Regions from separate parts of the Homo sapiens genome. Here regions 1, 2 and 4 are each linked to region 3. Evidence: fine-mapped expression QTL. A gene starts in region 3. Each other region holds a variant in brackets. All regions are shown on one strand. Distances are between the middles of the regions.

What was found. PIP is the estimated chance that this variant, and not a neighbour inherited with it, causes the effect. A credible set is the group of variants that fine-mapping cannot tell apart.
Region 1: its variant is the best candidate, but not a certain one, in a credible set for the expression of RADIL in sun-exposed skin (GTEx, PIP 0.75).
Region 2: its variant is the best candidate, but not a certain one, in a credible set for the expression of RADIL in prefrontal cortex (GTEx, PIP 0.69).
Region 4: its variant is the best candidate, but not a certain one, in a credible set for the expression of RADIL in left ventricle (GTEx, PIP 0.55).

Annotation. Positions count from the first base shown.
Region 1 is chr7:4,801,764-4,807,379 of GRCh38, forward strand. It overlaps RADIL (Rap associating with DIL domain), which reads right to left. Exons shown (of 15, transcript NM_018059.5): 10 at 3,803-3,953; 11 at 1,783-1,991; 12 at 1-232. Among named protein-coding and RNA genes, the nearest start is that of MIR4656, 16 kb to the left of the region's middle. The variant A/G (reference allele first, on the strand shown) is at 2,454.
Region 2 is chr7:4,786,103-4,791,102 of GRCh38, forward strand. It overlaps AP5Z1 (adaptor related protein complex 5 subunit zeta 1), which reads left to right. Exons shown (of 17, transcript NM_014855.3): 10 at 148-326; 11 at 1,532-1,674; 12 at 2,052-2,192; 13 at 2,738-2,849; 14 at 3,730-3,827; 15 at 4,357-4,489; 16 at 4,571-4,785. It overlaps MIR4656 (microRNA 4656), which reads right to left and starts at 2,537; the gene lies at 2,463-2,537. The variant C/T (reference allele first, on the strand shown) is at 2,344.
Region 3 is chr7:4,880,960-4,886,575 of GRCh38, forward strand. It overlaps RADIL (Rap associating with DIL domain), which reads right to left and starts at 2,757. Exons shown (of 15, transcript NM_018059.5): 1 at 2,637-2,757. RefSeq lists enhancers at 1,459-1,753, 1,483-2,171, 2,172-2,859 and a silencer at 2,569-2,788.
Region 4 is chr7:4,815,565-4,821,180 of GRCh38, forward strand. It overlaps RADIL (Rap associating with DIL domain), which reads right to left. Exons shown (of 15, transcript NM_018059.5): 7 at 1,675-1,787; 8 at 664-901. Among named protein-coding and RNA genes, the nearest start is that of SNORD165, 19 kb to the right of the region's middle. The variant C/T (reference allele first, on the strand shown) is at 2,383.

The DNA of each region.
Region 1 (5,616 bases), 79 kb before region 3:
CAAGTGGAGTGCTGGGAGGCGTGAGCAAGCAGGACGAGTCCGTGTGCGGGGGGCCAGCCTGGGAGCCCCCACGGCTGGGTTGCCTTCCAGGGGGGGCCTGTGCCCAGGGAGCCCCCCTCAAGGGAAGAGTACGCTCCGGGGCCACTTCCCGGGCTGCTGGGCCAGGGTCCCTGGGAGCCAGGGGGCAGCTCGGGGCCTCCAGGTGCCCGTCAAGGACCACGTGGTGCATACCCTAGGGAGAGGAAGGGTGACAGCTCAGGTAGAGGAGTGGCCAGGTGGACACAGCACTCGGGCAACTGGGCAGCCTGCAGCAGAAGGGCCGCCAGGCCGCGGGGCAGAGGTCAGCAAAGGACTCCCGCAGCCTGTGCAGCTTGAGACGCGCAAGAGGCAAAGGGGCTTCCCCGCCATCCGGAGCACAGCCTGCGCTGGGCCAGGACTCCCGGGGTTCCCAGAGCTCCCGCCTGCTGCCCCCAGCCCAGCTTCCAACCCTTCTCCTGTCCTCCCGGGCACCTCGGGGCACGCTGGCTGGGGGGCCCCCTCCCCAGGTACCTCGGGGCATGCTGGCTGGGCCCCCTCCCCGGGTACCTCGGGGCACGCTGGCTGGGGGGCCCCCTCCCCGGGTACCTCGGGGCACGCTGGCTGGGCCCCCTCCCCGGGCACCTCGGGGCACGCTGGCTGGGCCCCCTCCCCGGGCACCTCGGGGCACGCTGGCTGGGGGGCCCCCTCCCCAGGTACCTCGGGGCATGCTGGATGGACCCCCTCTCTGGGCACCTCAGGGAATGCTGGCTGGACCCCCTCCCCGGGCACCTCGGGGCACTCTAGCTGGGGGGCCCCCTCCCCGGGTACCTCGGGGCATGCTGGCTGGACCCCCTCCCCGGGCACCTCGGGGCACTCTGGCTGGGGGGCCCCCTCCCCGGGTACCTCGGGGCACGCTGGCTGGGTCCCCTCCCCAGGCACCTCGGGGCACGCTGGCTGGGCCCCCTCCCCGGGCACCTCGGGGCACGCTGGCTGGGGGGCCCCCTCCCCAGACACCTCGGGTCATGCTGGCTGGACCCCCTCCCCGGGCACCTCGGGGAATGCTGGCTGGACCCCCTCCCCGGGCACCTCGGGGCACTCTGGCTGGGGGGCCCCCTCCCCGGGCACCTCGGGGAATGCTGGCTGGGTCCCCTCCCCGGGCACCTCGGGGCACGCTGGCTGGGGGGCCCCCTCCCCGGGTACCTCGGGGCACTCTGGCTGGGCCCCCTCCCCGGGCACCTCAGGGCACGCTGGCTGGGGGGCCCCCTCCCCGGGTACCTCGGGGCACGCTGGCTGGGTCCCCTCCCCGGGCACCTCGGGGCACGCTGGCTGGGGGGCCCCCTCCCCGGGTACCTCGGGGCACTCTGGCTGGGTCCCCTCCCCGGGCACCTCGGGGCACGCTGGCTGGGGGGCCCCCTCCCCGGGTACCTCGGGGCACACTGGCTGGGCCCCCTCCCCGGGCACCTCAGGGCACGCTGGCTGGGGGGCCCCCTCCCCGGGCACCTCGGGGCACGCTGGCTGGGTGGCCCCCTCCCCGGGCACCTCAGGGCACGCTGGCTGGGTCCCCTCCCCGGGCACCTCGGGGCACGCTGGCTGGGTGGCCCCCTCCCCGGGCACCTCGGGGCACACTGGCTGGGCCCCCTCCCCGGGCACCTCGGGGCACGCTGGCTGGGTGGCCCCCTCCCCGGGCACCTCGGGGCACGCTGGCTGGGTCCCCTCCCCGGGCACCTCGGGGCACGCTGGCTGGGGGGCCCCCTCCCCGGGTACCTCGGGGCACACTGGCTGGGAGGCCCCACTGCCAGGCCTGCCAGGGCTGCCGGGGCTGGCTCTGCTCCGCAGACCCCACAGAAAGTGGCGGACGTAGAGCAGGTGCTGGTAGATGCTGTCGTCCAGGCAGTTGGCTTCCAAGTCCACCTGGAAGCCGTCGCTGGGCAGGACGATGGGTGGGGGGTTTTCGTAGGACTCCAGAACATCCTCTGCAGGGGAGAGAGGATGCCCGTAATGGCCACAGGAGAAGCTGCCTCCCTCGCCAGGCCGCCCCGCCCAACGGTGTGGGAACCCAGGGGCCAGCAGATTGAGCCCTGAGTCCCCTGCCCTGTGGACACAGGAGGCTGGGATCCTGGCCACAGTGACTGGCCCCACCCTAGGACTCATCCCTTCTGAATTCCCGCCGACCACCCGGTGTGACATCCGAGCAGTTCAGGACTGAGAACAAGGCCTTGTAGCCAGGAACCCTCCAGCCCCACTGAGCCGCTCTGCACTGGGCCTGTCTCTGCCCCACTGGTCTCTGATGGTGTCTCCGGGTAACTGGAGCTCCCCCAGCCCGGCAGAGCTGGACGCAAGCTCCTCCCAGGGCTGGAGCCGACTGCCTCCCTGCAGGAATCACGGGACCCAAACGGCCTGTGTGCGGGCTGCTCTCTGCCCCCAGGAACAGGAGC[A/G]CCTTTCAGGCGGCGGAAGAGTGCGTGCATACTGAGCTCCTAGCTCCCAGCACAGAATTCAGGCCACAGAAATGAATCAATGCGGAGGAAGGACTTAGAAGGTGTCAGGTGGAGCCAGGGTTCCTGTTCAGAGATGTTCTCCACGGTGACCCGGGGCTGCGGGGGGGCATCCAAGGCCCCATCGCCTCTGCGCCTCCCGCCATCCCGTACTCTGTTTTGTTGAGGTGTTAACACATAATGCAGATGAAGGGAGATGTGTGTATAATCTACACATTATAATGCACCCCTGGCCGGGGGTGGCGGCTCACGCCTGTAATCCCAGCACTTTGGGAGGCAGGAGCAGGCAGATCGCCTGAGGTCAGGAATTCGAGAGCAGCCTGGCCAACATGGTGAAACCCCGTCTCTACCAAAAATACAAAAATTAGCCAGGCATGGTGGCACACACCTGTAATCCCAGCTACTTGGGAGACTGAGGCAGGAGAATCGCTTGAACCCAGGAGGTGGAGGTTCCAGTGAGCCAAGATCGAGCCACTGCACTCCAGCCTGGTGACAGAGTGAGACTCTGTCTCAGTCAATCAATCAATAAAAGGCACCCTCGGCCAGGCACGGTGGCTCATGTCTGTAATCCCAGCACTTTGGGAGGCTGAGGTGGGCGAATCACCTAGGTCAGGAGTTCGAGACCAGCCTGGCTAAGATGGTGAAACCCGTCTCTACTAAAGATTCAAAAATTAGTTGGGCGTGGTGGCGGACACCTGTAATCCCAGCTACTAGGGAGGCTGAGGTAGGAGAATCGCTTGAACCTGGGAGGTGGAGGTTGCAGTGAGCTGAGATTGCACCACTGCACTCCAGCCTGGATGACAGAGCAAGACTCTTGTCTCAAAAATAAAAATAAAATAAAACGCACCCCTATGTATGCACGTACACATGTATGCGCACACAGACCCCTCCGTATGGACATGTGTGTGTGCGTGTGCACATACATGGCTCAGGGATGCGTCCCCACGGCTGTGTACCACCATTGCTCCCTTCCTGGGTAGCCATACAACAGGGGAGGCCCCATCCTCCGGCTCCGTGAGGGAACGAGGGGGCCTTGGACCTGAGCCTGGAGTTTGGAACTTGGGCATGGACTCTCGGCTCCTTGACTCCCCCGCCGAGGAGGTCCCCGGATCCCCAGGTTGGGGATGGGGCGGGGCGGGGGGGTCCTCTGGGTGGAGGCTCCTCCAGGGAGGTCCCCAGGAGAGAGGTCCCCCACACCCCACTTCAGTTGGGATGAGAGCATGCTGCCTCCAGCCTCGGGGCGAGTCTCCCACTGAGTCCCCAGCCCTCTCCTGCCCTGGGGCAGGGCTTACCTGACCTGAAGGCCTCGGGGCTGTCCTGGGCCCCTGGCTCCCAGGTGCTCATGGGGCCCATGGCCGAGGCCAGCTGGTAGTGAGTCAGCAGCCGGTGCAGCTGTGCTGGGCTCAGTGCGGGGAACGCAGCCCGCAGGGCTGTCCAGCTCATCTGGGTGACAAGAAGGAGCTCATGGTCACAGGTCTCTGGGTGCAGACCCCAGCCCAAAGAGGGATGGCCTCCACAGGTGGCCTGGGGGTAGCCAGCTGAGGGGCCCTGTGGTCCTCACTCCCACCAGGGGCCATCTGTGAGGGGGACGGTGTCACAGCAGCAGTTCACCCCTGGCACTTCCAAGGGCAGCTGCTCCAGGGAGAGGCCGGCCAGTGCCATCGGGAACCCCCTGCCCAGGGAACCCACCCCCGTCTCAAGCAAGGGCCGGCCTCACAGGCGGCCGCCAACCAGAGAAACCACTACTGGGAAATGAACAGTGAAATCAGATTCCTGCCTCCAACGGTGTGAAAGAAATCAATCAAGTCGGCTAAAAACCTGCCTGGAAGGCAGGGACATTCATCATTTAGGTGACAGGAGGCAGGGAAAACATTTGTTTGTTTGCTTGTTTTTTGAGACAGAGTCTCATGCTGTCACGCAGGTTGGGGTGCAGTGGCTCAATCACAGCTCACCGCAGCCTCGACCTCCCAGGATCAAGCGATCCTCCCACCTCAGCCTCCTGAGTAGCTGGGACCACAGGCTTGCACCATTATGTCCAGCTCATTAGTTTTTTGTTTTTGTTTTTTTTTGTAGAGATGGAGTTCTCACTATGTTGGTCTCAAACTCCTGGTCTCAAACTCCACGGCTGGTCTCAAATTCCTGGCCTCAAGCAATCCTCCCGCCTCAGCCTCCCAAAGTGTTGGGATTGCAGGTATGAGCCACTGGCTCCGGCCCAGGAAAACGTTTTAGGCAAGACAAAAAGCCTACACCGTAAGGAAGGGTGGATCCCTCCAATAAAATTAAACAGCCTCTGCGGCCCGCCAGGACCTCCATCATCATCCTTCTGGGGTTCCTTTCCCCGGCTCCCAGCCGGTTCTTATTTTCTGCAATTCATTTCTTCAGCTCTCTGGTTTGTCCTGTTTCTATGGAATAGATCTTCTAGTAGCTTCCCAAAAGGGGCGCATTGCAGGAAACCCACTGCCCTGCGTGCTGGAACTGTCTTCACCTCCACCCTGGACTGGTCATCTGGCTGGCACAGAACTCCAGGCGGGAGGGCGTCACCCTTCGGATTCTGCAGGTGCTGTTTTGTCCTGTGACTCCCGTGCTGCTCGTCCAAAGCAACCTGAGTGCAAATCTTCAGGGTCTGCCTTGTACTGATTCTTGTCTGGAAGCCTGTGGGTTCTCTGCACCCATCGTCCTGCAGCCCTGGGATGCTGAGTTTTGCTGTAAGCCCACTCTTGGCAGCAGCTCCTCCACCTCAATGCGTGGCTCTGGAGACTGCCTGCACCTGCCTTCCCCGCGCCCTCCACCCCTCTGCTGGCTCTTTCTGGACTCCCACTGTTTGGATGTGGCCTCGCTGCTGGGTCCCCTCTGTTCTCACCTTTGCCTCCTCGCTCTGTTTCTCTCCCATGTGTTTTTCTGCCCATATCCAGGGGCCTGGGCTGTGGCTACCAGATGTCCACGCTGAAGGATAATCGGTGTCTCGGGCGTCGTGCAGGAGGGGTGAGGGCACAGAACGACGTCCTCCAACACCACCGGCCCCCACCACCCTCACCCCTTACACACCCTTCAAGAAAGCCTCTGGTTTGCCCGGGGGTGGTTCTGTTTGATTGTGAGTTCCTAGAAC
Region 2 (5,000 bases), 95 kb before region 3:
GCCGCTTCCCCAGCGTCCCAGCGTAGGACGCCTCGGAGCCCTTGGTGTCCTGGAGAGCAGGCCTGAGACTCAGGGCCCCTAACCAGTCACAGAAGCACGGCCAGGGCGAGGTCAAGACGTGTGCCCTGGCGGGCCCTGGTCTTGCAGGGGAAGCGGCTGCAGTGGACTCGGAAGCCGTCTACCAGCACCTGTTCACCAGGATCCCGGTGGAGCAGTTCCACAGCCCCATGCTGGCCTTTGAATTCATCCAGTTCTGCAGGGACAACCTCCACCTGTTCAGCGGGCACCTCAGCACCCTCAGATTGAGCTTCCCCAACCTCTTTAAGGTATATTTGGGCATCCCTGGGTGCCAGGGCAGGGGCATGGTAAGTCCCTGGGGCTCCTCCCCTCTTTCCAGCGGGGTTCAGGGCGAGTCCTGGCTGAGCATAGAGCCCTGTGAGTCCCGGGCCTGGAATGCGGTGTGCAGGGTGAGGTGGGGATCTGGGGTGTCCCTGCAGCGTCACGTGATTGACGGTGCTGTCCAAGAACTCCCTTGTGGGTGTTTTGGAGAGGGGGCTGTGACACAAGACGGTGAGTTTGTTCTCACAGCACTGGGGCAGGGCTGCTGCCTGGTAGGATCCCTCCCCCGGGAGCCCTGCCTGGTGCCTTGGGCACTTGGGTGCCATTTGCCTTTTTTTTTTCTTTTGAGATGGAGTCTCATTCCTGTCACCTAGGCTGGAGTGCAGTGGCGCAATCTCAGCTCACTGCAACCCCCGCCTCCTGGGTTCAAGCGATTCTCCTGCGTCAGCCACCTGAGTAGTTGAGATTACAGGCACCCACCACCATGTCCAGCTAATTTTTGGTATTTTTAGTAGAGATGGGGTTTCGACATGTTGGCCAGGCTGGTCTCGAACTCCTGACCTCAGATGATCCTCCTGCCTTGACCTCCCAAAGTGCTGGGATTACAGGCATGAGCCACCGCACCCGGCCTGGTGCCATTTGCTTTTGAAGTGTCTTTTGCAGCCTCGCCTCGCTGTAAGGTCTTTTCAACTGAGGTGGGGAATCCTCTTTCTGGAGAAAAACCAGGACAGTGGAAAATTATTGACCTGTTGGTACGAAAGTAGATACAGGCTGGGGGCAGTGGCTCACACCTGTAATCCCAGCACCTCGGGAGGCCAAGGCAGGAGGATCTTGAGGCCAGGAGTTCAAGACCAGCCTGGGCAACACAGGGAGACCTCTTGTCTACAAAAAGTAAACAGCCTCACATGGTGGTGTGTGCCTGTAGTCTCAGCTGCTCAGGAGGCTGAGGTGGGAGGATCACTTGAGCCTGGGAGGTTGAGGTTGCAGTGAGCTATGATTGCACCACTGCACTCCAGCCTGGGCGACAGAGCAAGACCCTGTCTCAAAAAAATAAAAAGCGGGAGGAGGCAAAGGTAGAAGCCCTCCTGGGGACTGCAGGTCTGGGACAGCTGTGGGGCCCTAGCTGGCTCCTCCCTCTGCCGCCTGCTCCACAGCTCCGAGCCGTGTCCGAACCGCTGTGCTGTGCCCACAGTTCCTGGCCTGGAACAGCCCACCCCTCACCTCCGAGTTTGTGGCGCTCCTCCCGGCCCTGGTGGACGCTGGCACAGCCCTGGAGATGCTGCACGCGCTGCTGGACCTGCCCTGCTTGACGGCGGTGCTGGACCTGCAGCTCAGGTGGGCCCCTCACCCTCTGCCAGCGCTGCGTCTCCCAGCCAGCTGGTTCCACACACTGGGCCCCCTCCTCGCTGCTCCTGACCCCTACACCGGGGACCCTCCTTCTTCCCCCCCCAACACCTGACCAGTCCTCCCCTGCAAAGCCACCTCTAGGACAGGGTGTGTCTGTCACCCTTGGCCACTTGCCAAGGGCAGCCCCTGCACCCTGGAGTGCCTCACCCGTCTTCACGCCCAGGCCTGGAGCCTCCCATGCCAAGCCCTTCCTGGCACCCGAGGTGCTGTGATATTAGGGACACCTGCCGTGTGTCTCCCTGACGGGGGTGCCCTTGAGTGCAGGGGCCGCATCCCAGCCTGGCCTTGGGCGTCTGTCCACGCAGGTCAGCACCGGCTGCATCCGAGAGGCCACTCTGGGACACCTCTCTCAGGGCCCCCAGCTGCCTGGAGGCCTTCCGGGACCCGCAGTTCCAGGGTCTTTTCCAATACCTGCTGCGCCCCAAGGCCAGTGGCGCCACTGAGAGGTACGGGGCCCTAGGGCCAGGGGGCCACCAGTGGCTCAGAGAGCCCGGCCACAGCCACTGGGGTGGGGCTCACTGCTCAGCCCTAGGCTGAGGCCAGGGTGCTTTGTGTCCCACACAAGGCTGCGTCCCCGTCATCACCATTATAGAGGCC[C/T]TGCTTCTGCACCACGGGTCTGCCGGGGGCGGGGCCTGGTCTCAGCTCTCTCTGCTGCCCACATCAACCCTCATAAGCTTGGAGGTTGGCCCTGTGGGTGCTCCATTTTGCAGATGGACAAACCGAGCCTGAGCCCAGGAAGCAGGAGGCCTGGGACCGGCCACAGGCCTCCTGCCCTCAGCCCACGCCAGCCTTTGTCCCGATGGCTTTACTGTCCCGGGTGTGCTGACGCCAGGGGTCTCCCCAAACCCAGGGGAGCAGGAGGTCCCGAGAGGCGATGAGTGAGGATGGGAGCGGGCTCAGCTGTGCGAGAGGGAGCAGTGGCGACGTGGCCCCGGCCTGCAGTCACCAGGTCGGGGAGCGGGCAGCACTCACGGCCACACTGTGTCCTCAGGTTGGCGCCACTCCACCAGCTGCTGCAGCCCATGGCCGGCTGTGCCCGCGTGGCCCAGTGTGCCCAGGCCGTGCCCACGCTGCTGCAGGCATTCTTCTCAGCAGTGACCCAGGTGAGCTCGCTGCCTGGGGCCCCCCATTCCCACAGGCCTCACAACTGAGGGGCAGGCCAGAGCCAGCACTGGGGGGCCCTCTTGAGCTCTGCAGAAGGCTGCTCCCGCCACACCCACCATCCACGGTCCCTGTGAGGGTCAGGGAGGCACATGCCACAGCCCCGGCAGGCCCCGTCCCTTGTCCCATCCCCTTTATTCCAGCAGGCCCCGTTCCCCAGTCCCCGTCCCATCCCCTTCATCCCGGCAGGCCACGTCCCCCAATCCCCGTCCCATCCCCTTCATCCCGGCAGGTCCTGTCTCCCATCCCAGCAGGCTCCATCCAACTGCCCCAGCAGGCCCTGTCTTCCGTCCCCAGGACAGGGCAAGTGAGTGGCCTGGGCTCTGGCCACACAGCTGGGGCCGGAGCAGTTTGTCCCCCTGCTGCCCCTGATAATTCAGCATCCCCATCTGAGGCCAAAATAAAGGCTCCCACAGGCTGGTGCCCCCCATCTCCCCCATTGCTGCTTCCCACCTCGGGGAGCTCTACAAGCCAGTGCAGGAGAGCCTGGGAGGTGGGGAGGCCGGCAGGGGGCTGGGCGTTGCTTGGGCGCACCCTTGGCCAAACAAGACGTGTGCCTGGCCTTGCAGAGCGGGAGTTGGCAGAGGAGCCGTGGAACAGAAGCGACACCTCTGCCGGGGGCACTTGGGCCAGCCCAGGGCTTCCCTCCCTGTGCCCGGATGCTGCCAGCTGAGTCTCTGTGTCCCTGGGTGTTGGGGAAGGCAGTGGACGAGGAGTCTCCAGCCCCTCACCTGCCCCCCAGCCCTCACCATGGCTTCACCCCCAACCTTAGGGCCTGCAGTGGGGGTGGGGCTGAGCCTGTTTCCCACTCCTGACCCCCAGGTGGCTGACGGGTCCCTGATCAACCAGCTGGCGCTGCTGCTCCTGGGCAGGAGCGACTCGCTCTACCCGGCCCCAGGGTACGCTGCCGGTGTGCACAGGTAGGTCCCTCCTGCGCTCCTGCCACAGCCCTGGGCGGGTGCCTCCTGGACTCCTCCCCCTCTCCCCTCCCCCCTCCCCTTCAGTGGCTTCGGCACCACCCCTAGCTGGGCCCTCAGCAGCCTCAGACCCTGCCACCCCCACCCACAGCCCCACACCCAGCCCCAGGCACTTCTCTCTGCTTCTCAAGAACATTCCCGTCCTTCTTTCTGCCGAGCCTGTCCTCTTCAGGGTTAGCTCAGGTCCCTCTTCCCCGTCTTGTCCCCTGGGGTCCTTCTCTCCAAAGGCCTGATGCATGCAGGCCCATCCTGGTTCCACTCTGAGCCTGGGCCTGAGGCCAGCGCTGGTGCCAGCCTTCTCCCCAGTGAGAACAGTTTCTCTGAGGCTGGCAGTCTTCTGTGTTCCTCTATCGGAGGGTGCAGCATACACCTACCACTCAGACGCTTCCCGGGTTTCTCCAGGCCCTTGGCCTGGATGGGGATGGGGTCATAGGTCTGCACAGAGCAGGCGTAGACCCGGCTTTCTGGGCAGTGTGCTGAGTTCTCAGTTCCTGGCCCTGTGTACGCTGAAACCCTCCCTGGTGGTGGAGCTGGCAAGAGACCTGCTGGAGTTCCTGGGCAGCGTGAATGGTCTCTGCAGCAGGGCGAGCCTCGTCACCAGCGTGGTAAGGCGGGCGCTGGCCTCCCACAGCCGCTCCTGACCCAGGAGGCCTGGGTGGGGGCTGAATCTCTGTCCCCGGGCCTAGGTGTGGGCCATCGGCGAGTACCTGTCGGTGACCTACGATCGGAGGTGCACCGTGGAGCAGATCAACAAGTTCTTCGAAGCCCTGGAGGCTCTGCTATTCGAGGTCACCCAGTGCCGCCCCTCTGCTGCCCTGCCCAGGTGTCCCCCCCAGGTGGTCACCGTGCTGATGACCACGCTGACGAAGCTGGCCTCCCGGAGCCAAGATCTGATCCCCAGGTGCCTGGTCAGGGAGGGAGCGAAGCCTTCTGGCTCCTGGGGAAGAGAGGTGGCTTCTGAGGTCTTCCCATCCAGGTGTTGTGAAATGGTCGCAGCAGCGCAGGTCCTGGGTGGGCCCTGCTGAGCTAAAGCCACTCTGCTGGGCGCTTCAGGCCTGGCCCCTCCACACAGACCCCTGTCCTGGGAGGGGAGCATCTGCAGCTGACGGAGGGACC
Region 3 (5,616 bases):
GGGCATGGTGTGCACCTGTAGTCCCAGCTACTCGGGAGGCTGAGGCAGGAGGATCACCGGAGCCCAGGAGTTCCAGGCTACAGTGAGCTATGATTGCGCCACGTCACTCCAGCCTGGGCAATGGAGTGAGACCCTCTCTGTTAAAAAAAAAAAAAAAAAAAAAAAAAAAAAGATGGCTGGGCACGGTGGCTCACGCTTGTAATCCCAGCACTTTGGGAGGCTGAGGCGGGCAGATCACGAGGTCAGCAGATCGAGACCATCCTGGCTAACACTATGAAACCCTTTTTCTACTAAAAATACAAAAAATTAGCCAGGCGTGGTGGTGGGCACCTGTAGTCCCAGCTACTCGGGAGGCTGAGGCAGGAGAATGGCGTGAACCCGGGAGGCGGAGCTTGCAGTGAGCCAAGATCATGCCACTGCACTCCAGCCTGGGCGACAGAGTGAGACTCCCTCTCAAAAAAAAAAAAAAAAAAAAGACAAAAATTGGCTGGGCATGGTGGTTCATGCCTGTAATCCCAGCTCTTTGGGAGGCCGAGGCGGGCAGATCACTTGAGGTCAGGAGTTCAAGACCAGCCTGGCCAACATGGTGAAACCCTGTCTCCACTAAAAATACAAAAATTAGCTGGGCATGGTGGCGGGTGCCTGTAACCCCAGCTACTTGGCAGGCTGAGGCAGGAGAATCGCTTGAACCCCAGAGGCAGAGGTTGCAGCAAGCCGAGATCACGCCACTGCACTCCAGCCTGGGCAACAGAGTGAGACTCCGTCTCAAAAAAAAAAAAAAAGACAAAAATTATAAAAAGGCCCCCAAATACAATGGAAAAGTGAGTTGATATTTGGGGCCCAGGGGTGGATATATGTTTTGTAAGGTCTGACATTTACATAATTCTTCTTTAATAAAAAACAAATAGAAAATTACAAACACACAACTGCTAGGTCTCCTCCCAGGGTCTTAGAAGCTTGAACTTCAGAAATGTTGTTCCCCCCACTTCCCCCCACCCCTGCTTTTCCCACAGTTTCCGGAGCCGGATTCGAAGGCAGAGGCAGAGTTAGCAGTATCATGAAACAGGAGAAAATGTAAGCAGAGAGAATATGATTGACTCCTTTCCAATAACTCCTTCTTAAGCCCCCAGAAGTCCCTGTTACACAAACCTTATCTGTTTTGGGATTTTCAGAAAGCATTTCTCTCCGTTTGGTCATCCTCCCTTGGCCAGACCAGAGGGTGCCCACTTGTTCACACGCTGCCCGCTTCCGAATCCCAGAAGGCGGAGCCTGGCCTGTTTGTGAGAATGGGATGGACTCGTTTTTTAAAAGGCCAAGGGGAGTGCAGGAAAATCCGACCGGGCGGAGCACGCCCTGGGTAACAAGATCTGTTTTTCTGGAAGTGCGACCGGCCTCTTCTGCCCCATTCGCTCCTCTGTGACACAAATACTTGGGGAAAGCGCAGGGCTCGGACAGCGAGGGTGTGGGGCGCTGGCTGGTGCTGCTCTTAGAGAATGTTTTCTCTTGTTCTCAAGGAAGGGTCCAGTTTCTGATGAAAAACAAGCTCAAGTCCCAGCGGCGAGTACAGGGAGTGAGGTCAGTGCTGCGCTGACGACATGGGTGGAGCGACCTCTCTGCTCCAACAGGACAATGTGGAACCCATTATCATTTCCAGCAGGAGGGAAAACGAAGCGCAGACTTTACACACTCAGCTCTCTCCCCTCCTTCCATGAATCCTATCTTTACAGCCCCAGCCCGAGCCACGCTTTCAAATGCAAACATAATTCAATCAGATTTAATTCTGACCTGCTAGCTGCTGGAGAGGAGACCGACTTGCCCCCCAGCAAAAGGGACTTTCAAGACTGGTTCCTGTCTGGAATGCACAAGAGGTGGCCTATATTAACCGCGGGACACGAGCAATCAGATTCTTCTGTGCAATTCAGATTAGCCAAACACTTGACAGGCGACAGGGCAGGGCAGGATGGTCCGCAGCCCCGCCAGGGCCCTGCCAACCCCACCAACAGGCTCCTCCTGCGAGGCCCCAGGAGCTCGGCTCAGCATCTGTTATCTTGGATGCAGTATTTGTCGAGGGGCTGGAAATGGTACATAAATAGCCGGGAAACAATGCTTTGAGCTGGCGCACGAGTGGGGATCGGGCTGCAACCGGGACGGGGTATGTGCAGGGGACGTCTCGCCGGCCCAGGTGGGAGAGCGCGCGGAACCCTGCGCCCCGCTCCCCCGCTGCGCCCCGCTCCCCCGCTGCGCGCCCCGGACGAAGCTCCCCCTCCAGGGCACAGCCGGGAAAACTGAGGGCCGAGAGTCCCCTGGAGTTGGGGGTCCGGGGCCCACGCGGACAGCCAGGCTCAGGAGCTCTCGGGGGTCGGCAGCGCGGACCCCCGGATCCCCGCAGGCTGGGCCGCCCTTGCCCGCGCTAGCCGGCCTCCGGGTACCGCCCCCCGGTCCAGGCCGGGGCCCGACAGCCAGTCGGTTCCCATGGCAACTGGGCAAACCTGCCCTCCGCGCCCCGACCAGCGGCCGGGAGTGTCCCCGAGCGCGCCCCGCGGCCTCCGCGCCCCAGGTCCCCGGCAGCGGCCGAGCAGCGCCCCTTACGAGCCACCCCCGGTTCCGCAGTCACTCCTCGCGCACCCCACACTCACCTCCGGCACAACCCGCCGCGCCGCCACGTTCCCGCGCTGCTCCCACCCGCCGTTGGCTGGGGCCGGCGCCCAGACCCGCGCGTGCCGCGGCGCCTCCTGCCGGCGGCGCAACGGGCGGGGCGGGGCCTCAAGGGGACGGGGCCACAAAGGGTGGGGCGGGGGAGAACAGGTGGGCTGGAGCTGGGCCTCGGCGCCCAATAGGCAGAAAGAAAGCCTCGAGGAGGCGGGGTCTCCAGGAGAGGGGCGGGGCCAACCTGCTAGAAAAGGCGGGCTGTGCTCTGGCGCCTCCTGCCGGCCGCCCAATGGACGGGGATGCAGCCTCGAGGGGGCGGGGCCTCACCGGAGAGGCGGGGTTTTGAAGAAAGGGGTGGGGCTGGTTGTGGAGAGGCGGGACTTGCAGCCCACCCACAGACTGCAGCTTAAGGAGGGGGGGTCCCCGGAGGAAGGGTGGGACCAGTTCTAAGTCCCTGAGCTGCTTGTGGGCTCTGGGCTCCTGCGGTTGGGTGGGCTATTTCGAGACAGCACCTTCTAGTAGCCCAGTGAGTGGGTGTAGGGGAGGGTAGAGCTGTGCCCCCAATTAATAAACATCTTCTAAGACATCGAAAAGGAACAAGGGAGGAATTTCCTCTCCCCTACCATCTGTCTCCCACCCAGAGTTTTAAAAGACAAATCAGGTCATGGCATTCCTGCTTACAATTATGCAAAAAAATGACCAGGTCAGCTCTGGGGCTCTGGCCCCAACTGCTCTCCCTGGGGACTTGTTTAAAAAGCAGCTCGTGACCTCGGCACTTTGGCTGGGGTTTTCCCTTTGAGGAATGTGGGCTAGACCTGGGAGATTCAGGTGGTTCGGAATATCAATATGCAGAATGTGGGCCTCGGGAGTGAACCTTTTTGTGGACAGCTATCGTGGTATGATTTCCGTAGTCATGACCCCATATTCGCGATGGAGGTCGGAGCAGACATTGATGAGTGTGGGAACAGACATTTATTGACCACCTGTGTGCCAGGCCCTAGGCAACTTTACCTAGGTCACCTCACTTAATGCTCACATCAATTCTTGTGAGACAGAGATGTCTGAGACATTCCAGGCCTCCCCTTTCCTCCACCTATCACCTGCTAATCCTAAAGTCCACCTCCTAAACCTTTTCTAATAAAAAATAGTGCCTCAAAGTCAACACAGAGAGACAGATTTGAGCCAGGCTCCTGTCTCCTTATTGATCAACTCACAATACGGACAAAAAAAGCTTTTGTCTCAAAAACTTAATGCAGTAAGATTGGCTTTTTTTTTTTTTTTTTTTTTTTTTTTTTTTGGAGACAGAGTCTTATTCTATTGCCCTAGCTGGAGTGCAGTGGTGTGATCTCAGCTCACTGCAACCACCACCTCCCAGGTTCAAGCGATTCTCCTGCCTCAGCCTCCCGAGTAGCTAAGGTTAACAGGCACCTACCACCACGCCCACCTAATTTTTGTATTTTTAGTAGAGACGGGGTTTTGCCATGTTGACCAGGCTGGTTTTGAAATCCTAACATCAGGTGATCCACCCACCTCAGTCTCCCAAAGTGCTGGAATTACAGGCATGAACCTCTGCACCTGATCAAGATTGGCTTCTAGCAGAGCAAGCGCAGAACCCTTTTGTTCAGTAATACTCCCATTTTTCAGATGAGAAAATAGAGACGCAGAGAGGTCAGGCTGCTGGAGGTAGAGACAAGAACTGAGCCAGGAATACAGGACCCTCTGTATACACACCAACCTCCTCGCCTACCCCAGGAAGGGATGCTTGAAAGGAATGACGTGCTTGAATATTTCATTCAGGTGCGCATGAAGAGACAATGGTCAGAGCTGAAGGAGAGCCTGGGTTCAGGCCTGGGTTTTCCTCCTGAGATATTCCTCACCCTGCTCCTGGCCCATCTCCCACAGTCCCCACATCCTTCTTCCACAGGGGTCGGATAACTACAACCCATGGGCCAGATCTGGGCTGCCTTCTGTTTTTGTAAATAAAGTTTTATTCAAACACAGCTACCCTCATTTGTTTAGATATTATCTACGACTGCTTTCCTGCAACCAGGATTTTACAGCCCCAAATATCTAAAATATGACCTGGCCCTTTATAGAGAAACTTTTCAGATTGCTTCTTGATCTAGAAATGCTGACTTTTTGGTATGAATATGCTGTTTCATGCCTCGAGATCTTCCCTCAGGCCGGTCCCTTGACCTTCAAACACCTTTTCCAACTGTATTAGATTAGCTGAGCTGCTATTAAAAAATGCCAGATCAGGTGGCTCGAAAAACGGAAATGTTTTATCTGGCAGCTCTGGAGGCTGGAAGTCCAAGGTGAAGTTGTCAGCAGGTTTGGCTTCTTTGAGGGCCTCTATCCTTGGTTTGCAGACGGCCACCTTCTGGCTGTGCCCCCACATGGCCTTTCTTCTGGGTGTGCACCTCTCACCTGTCTCTTTGTGTGTTCAATCTCCTCTTTTTATAAGGACACTAGTCAGATTAGACTAGGGCCCATCCTAACAGCCTCATTTTATCTTAATCACCTCTTTAAAGGCCCTGTCTCCAAATATAGTCACATTCTGAGGTGTGAGGGGTCGGGGCTTCAACAAACACGTGAATTTTAGGGGGACAAAATTCAGACCATAACAGCAAACTTCATTACCTGGCTAACTTCTTTTTTTTCAAATGTGTGTGTGTATATATATATATATATATTTTTTTTTTAGATGGAACCTTGCTCTGTCGCCCAGGCTGGAGTGCGGTGAGGCAATCTTGGCTCACTGCAATCTCTGCCTCCCAGGTTCAAGCGATTCTCCTGCTTCAGCCTCCTGAGTAGCTGGGATTATAGGCACCTGCCACCACGCCTGACTAATTTTTGTAATTTTAGTAGAGATGGGGCTTCACCATGTTGACCAGGCTGGTCTCGAACTCCTGACCTTGCAATCTGCCTGCCTCAGCCTCCCAAAGTGCTAGGATTATAGGCATGAGC
Region 4 (5,616 bases), 65 kb before region 3:
CTCGATGACAGGCAGGACACCTTCCCTCGGTTTTCAAGGCAACTGACCAGCCTTGAACCCCTCTCTGGAGCGGGGGTACGGTGGGAGGTGAACGTAGCAGGGCAGGGTGGGCTGTGACTGCCGCTGACTCCACAGTGCAGCCCCTAGCTGGGACCCTCTCCCACTCCCAGACACATGTGCCGGGGGCCTGCCCCCACCTGGGTCTCCCCACGCCCCACAGTGGCCCTGGCTGGGAGTGGCCAGTGCTCCTGAGCCCTGCAGGTGATGGGGGAAGTCACTCCACAAGGCAGGGTCCAAGGCCAGAGTCCGCGGCTGCACAGACCTGGGTTCCATCCTGGCCCTGACATGTCCACCGGGCAGTTCTGGGACAGTCCAATGATGCCCTGAGCCCGTTCCCTCCCTGTCACGGGGAAGGGGTCCCATGCAGACCTCTCGGCCGTGGCTTCTCTGAAACCCCGATGGGACCCTGGCTCCTACGGGATGCGCTGTGCTGATCTGTCCCCCCTCACTCTGGCCTCTCACCCCTCAGGGACACCAGACGCTCAGGGAGCAGGAGGCCAAAAAGGGCAGAGCCGCCTCCAGGAGCTGGCGAGGGAGGCGCCAGCAGCCGTCATGTCCAGGAATGTGAGCCCCCGACCCCTCAACCCTGCACGAGGCCCTCACCCCTGTCGAGGAGCTGGTTGAGAAGCAGTGTCCCGGAGAAGAAGAAGAGGTAGGCGAGCATCTGCGAGGCCACCTCGGGGTGCACCTGCAGCTGCCGCAGGAGGTCCAGGGCTGCCTGGTACACAGACACCACGCGGCGCAGCTCCTCGGGCAGTTCGGGGGCCGAGGACCAGCTCTCACGGCGCTCCGTCTGGAATGGCGGGCACTCCAGGAGTGCCGGGAGGCAGATGTACAGGGACTGGCGGGGGCAAGAGGAGAACAGCAACCAGCATTTCCAGGAGCGCTGGCGGCCGAACGGGGGGCCTGACCCAGCGAGCTCCCCACCCACGCACTGCTTGCAGGGACCCGGCCTCGGTAGCTTCCTGCTGGACAGGCCATGGCTTTGCAAATGTCCAGTGTGGGATGTGGGGACACAGGAGCTGCCTCCTGGGGCTGCTGGGAGCAGAGGTGGGGTGCAGGGGGCTCAGGGGGATCTGCTGTCGGAGGCACAGATGAACTCAGAAGGCGCACAGAGGTGGCGCCTGGGGGGATGGGCTCCAACAAAGGGGCTCCAACAAAATGACGGGAGAGTCACCACTCCCCCAGAAAGTGGCTCACCGCACCCCCGATGCACCCCAAGCTGGCCAGGGCCACAGGGGGACCGGCGGCAGCACCTCTGGCACCCGTGGGTCCAGGGTGACAACAGGGCCATGTCCCTTGCGCCCCATGCTGGGGCCTCCCCCACCTCATCCCTGACCCTCGAAATACTGGCAGGAAGGGGGCGTTTCAAGGCGAGGGAAAGGGAGCTGGGATGGTTCTAGGGCTTCTGTGCGACCTGAGGAGGAGCGGGTGTGGGGGGTGCAGCTGGGCCTGTGCAGAACCTGCAGCCACTGCTCCCTGATGAAGTGGAGCTTGTCACGGTCCCCTCCCTCAGCCCCCCAGAAGGCTCCTTAGGAGAGCCACAGGCACAAGCTTGAGCCCCACTTGATCCCAGGAGCTGCCTGAGTGCAGAAGCAGAGCCCGTCCGTGCACCTTGGAGACATAGTAGACGCACTGCTGGAAGGCGTACAGCACCACCTCCTCCAGCACCGCCATGGCCTCCTCGCTGGCCGTCAGCGTGCAGGAGAACAGCGATTCCTTCGAGCCTGCCGGGAGACAGCCACGCCAATGGTCACAACGGGCACAGCGCTCAGGAACGCAGCAACTCAGCCAGCCGCCAGCTCTTTCCCTGGCGCGGGCACCACCCAACGCGCCCATCTGGGGTCCAGATGCGATAAACTGGCCGAGGGACTCTGGGCCCTGGCTGGGACGAGCGCAGCAAACCTGCCGCCACTCTTACCTGGGGAGGGGAATGCCGGGAGGGGCAGGAGGGGTCCAGACACCCAACATCTCAATGCCCAGCCCAGCCCAGCCCAAGCGCTCATTCACTCCCACGTTCTGGATACGTTTTCTGTTACAACCAACTGCACCCAACATAGCAGGTCCTAACTGCCTCCCCACAGGTCACCTCTCACTCGCGACACGGGTCACAGGACTCTGGCAGCAGCCCCTGAGTGGCCGCCACTCTGTGGAATCATAAGTCTTTTGGGAAGAAAAAGCCCAAATCAGCTATTTCACCCCCACCCCCGGGTGTCAGCCGGGGCGGCTGGAGCTGAGGCTGGGGGGAGCTGCCCACGGAGTGGTTCCTGCCGTCTGGGTGGGGGCTCTTGTGAAGGTGGGAGGCCCCCAACAGGGTGGAGC[C/T]TTCCCCGGGGGCTTCCAGAAAGTGAGGGAGCATGTGGTGGTCTCAGTGACTGAGGGTCCCATCAGCACCTGGGGAAGGGGCCAGGACCCTGGGTGTTCCGCCTTTGGGCGCCTTCATTCTCTCCTGGGACTGTGGGCGGCCAACCACAGTGGTGTTCCCTGTCAGCCGCGTGGGCGGCCACAGCTCCCCTCCTCTCCCTCCTGTGGGGCCTTCTTCCAGGAGGGGCAGAGGGGCCGCATCGTGGGGGCTGCCTGTCCAGGCCGCCTGCCAGGGCTGCATGGGCGGCGCCTGGTGAGCCAGGCCAACACTCACCCCAGCGCGGGCCTCCCAGGAGCACAGGCCCCCAGCTGCCCCTCTGCCGGGCAGACTGCACCGGAGGCCGGCCCACTCATGGCCAGGACAATGGTGCGCCAAGCCCTTGGACAAGCCCCTGTCACTTTCGCTCTGCCGCTCCTGGTGCTCCTCCTTCAGGGGCTTGGGGCTGCCTGGCCCCCACCCACCAAGCCCGCTCCCCAAGAACCTGTGAAGCCCCCCAGTGCCTGCCCCACAGGGTCACATCTGGGAACCAGGCAGGGCAGCTGGAGGGACCCCGGGGTCCGGGGCAGTAAGGGGCTCTCGGGCTCTGCCAACCTCAACACTGTGCCCAGAAGCCTCCAGGCCTGTGGAGACACACAAGGTGGCCCGACGGCGCCCACAGCGAGTGCCGGCAAAGGATATTCACAGCCACGGCAGGCGGGTCAGGAGGCTGAGCTCTGTCCCGTCCACCTGTCCTGGTGCCCTGACCCTGGCTGCCTCAGGCTGCCAGGTCTGAGAACCCAGCCCCACATCACTCCCTGGGCAGGGGCGGGGCACTGGTGGGAAGAGGGAAACGGGGCATGGGAATGACAGGAGAAGGTGGCAGGGACTGTGCTGAATGAAACCACAAAGCAGCCTCCAGCCACCCACCACGGGCCTGAGACTCCATTTCTTCTTTTATTTAATTTTTGGTAGAGATGGGATCTCACTATGTTGCCCAGGCTGGTCTGGAACTCCAATCTACCCGCCTTGGCCCCCCAAAGTGCTGGGATTACAGGCATGCACCCCTGCACCCGGCCCTGAGACTCCATTTCTCTCTCTCTCTCTCTCTTTTTTTTTTTTTTTTAAAGACAGAGTCTCACTCTGTCGCCCAGGCTGGAGTGCAATGACACAATCCCAGCTCACTGCAGCCTCAGCTTTCCAGGTTCAAGCGATTCTCCTGCCTCAGCCTCCCAAGTAGCTAGGACTACAGGCACATGCCACCATGCCTGGCTAATTTTTGTATTTTTAGTAGAGACGGGGTTTCACCATGTTGGCCAGGCTGGTCTCAAACTCCTGACCTCATGTGATCTGCCTGCCTCGGCCTCCCAAAGTGCGGGGAGGACAGGTGTGAGCCCAGCCCTGAGACTCCATTTCTAAACCCCCGGAGACGCCTCTCCCTGTGGTACCAGGGCTGGTGGGCATTTCTGAGGATTTCCGACGCCCACGAGCCATTAAGAGGACACACCAGCCGGCTGCCCCTGCCCTGCCCCGAAACTCCAGGACCCCTGAGGAAGCTGGCCCTATCCCTAAAGAAGAAGGCGCTGAGCTCCAGCCACGAGGAGAATCTGAGGCGCACACGATGGTGTGAGGCGGCGCGGGAGGGGCCTGGGTCAGAGCTTTGTACAAAACAGTGTTTGCGGAATGACAACAGCCACGTGACCCACCCTCGGGACGCGACAGCCCTGCTCTCCGAATTCTTCCCACAGACATTTCCTGCAGAGGGTCGGGAGGCTGACGGGGCTCTGCCCCTCCGGCCCCTTCTAGGGGCTATTTCCCACTCTGTTCCCTGGTGCCTGCCTGGCCCTCGACACCCGGAGCCTGCAGGCATCCCTGGGCCCTGGCTCCCATCGCCGGGCCAAACACTGCTCAGGCCCCTGACCAAAAATAACTTCCTCCCAAGACCAAAGGCAGCAGCTCCAACAGCCCAGAGCAATTTTTCCCATGAAGAGCAGCCAGCACGGGGACCACATGGGACCCAGCTGCCTGCGGCCACCAAACCCAGGCAGCCACGAAGCCACGTGGAAAGTCAGCCGGGGACTCTCCAGGAACACAGAGCCGAAAAATCACAGGTCCCTGAGCTGACTCTTCCTGTGGGGGCCGGAACAAAAGGGGCTCCTAAGCTGGCCCCGTCCCCCTGTCACACGGAAGGACCAAGTGCACTGCAAGGTCAGTGAGGGTCACCCTTGGCCGGCCGCAACTCCGGAGTTGCCTCCATCCCAGGGCCACCTGCCGGCTGCAAATCCAGCCCTGGAGGATGGCAGAGTCAGGTCTGCAGGGAGAGGCGACGGGCGCTGTAGTCCCGGGAGCCCAGGAGCCCCAGGGGAGGCCTGTAGCTGGGCAGCTGGAGGTGGGAACCTTGCGTGGAGACTTAGGGACCCACAGTCGTTTACGTCACTTTCCAGGAAAAAGCCAGAGGAAAGGTCTACCCTAGGCCCAGGCCCCATGGACAGGCAGGGGCTGCCCCATCACGTGGGGGGCAAGGGCACAGGCCAGATGCCCGGATGCCCACCAAGGCCAGGAGGGGTTGACACTACCCCCACATATTGAAGGCAGCCCCGATTCCCAGGACTGGGGAGACCCTGGCAGATCCCCACATCCCCTTCCCTGTGAAGGAGGGGAGAAGGAAACAGTGGGAAGGAACCGTGGCCGGCAGGAAGGAACTCGGACAGATCCTGGCCGGCTCTGCCTCCCCCAGGAGCGGGGGCCCCACCCCACAACCTCATGGCCAGGGCCAGCCCGGCCTGTTCCACGCGCCCTCAGTCCAGCCTGGTCTCTGCAGCCCGGCCCCCGCCCGGAGGCTGAGGACTGGGCCCCGACGCATTGTGGGAGCCTGTCCCACCACAGGGTCACTGTGCAGATGCCCCGCCACCTCCCTCTCACCACGGAGAGCCCCTCCTCTCAGGAAACCTGCCCCTAAGGCATGGGGGGGCACAGCAGGGTCCCAGCGCCCCCAACACAGCCTGGCCAGTACCTCGCCTGGCCTTGTGTCCTCCGGGCTGTCTCAGATGCAGCCACAGCCACAGCCCCCTCCCAGGGATGGGGACACAGCTGAGTACACAGAGACCCCGCAGCGTCTGGTAGACTGAGCCTGTGGGAGCTCCTGTCCCTGCACACCGGGCCTGCGCCTCCCTCGAAGCTCAGAGACGCAGCCTGGAGCAGCTCTGAATGCACCACTC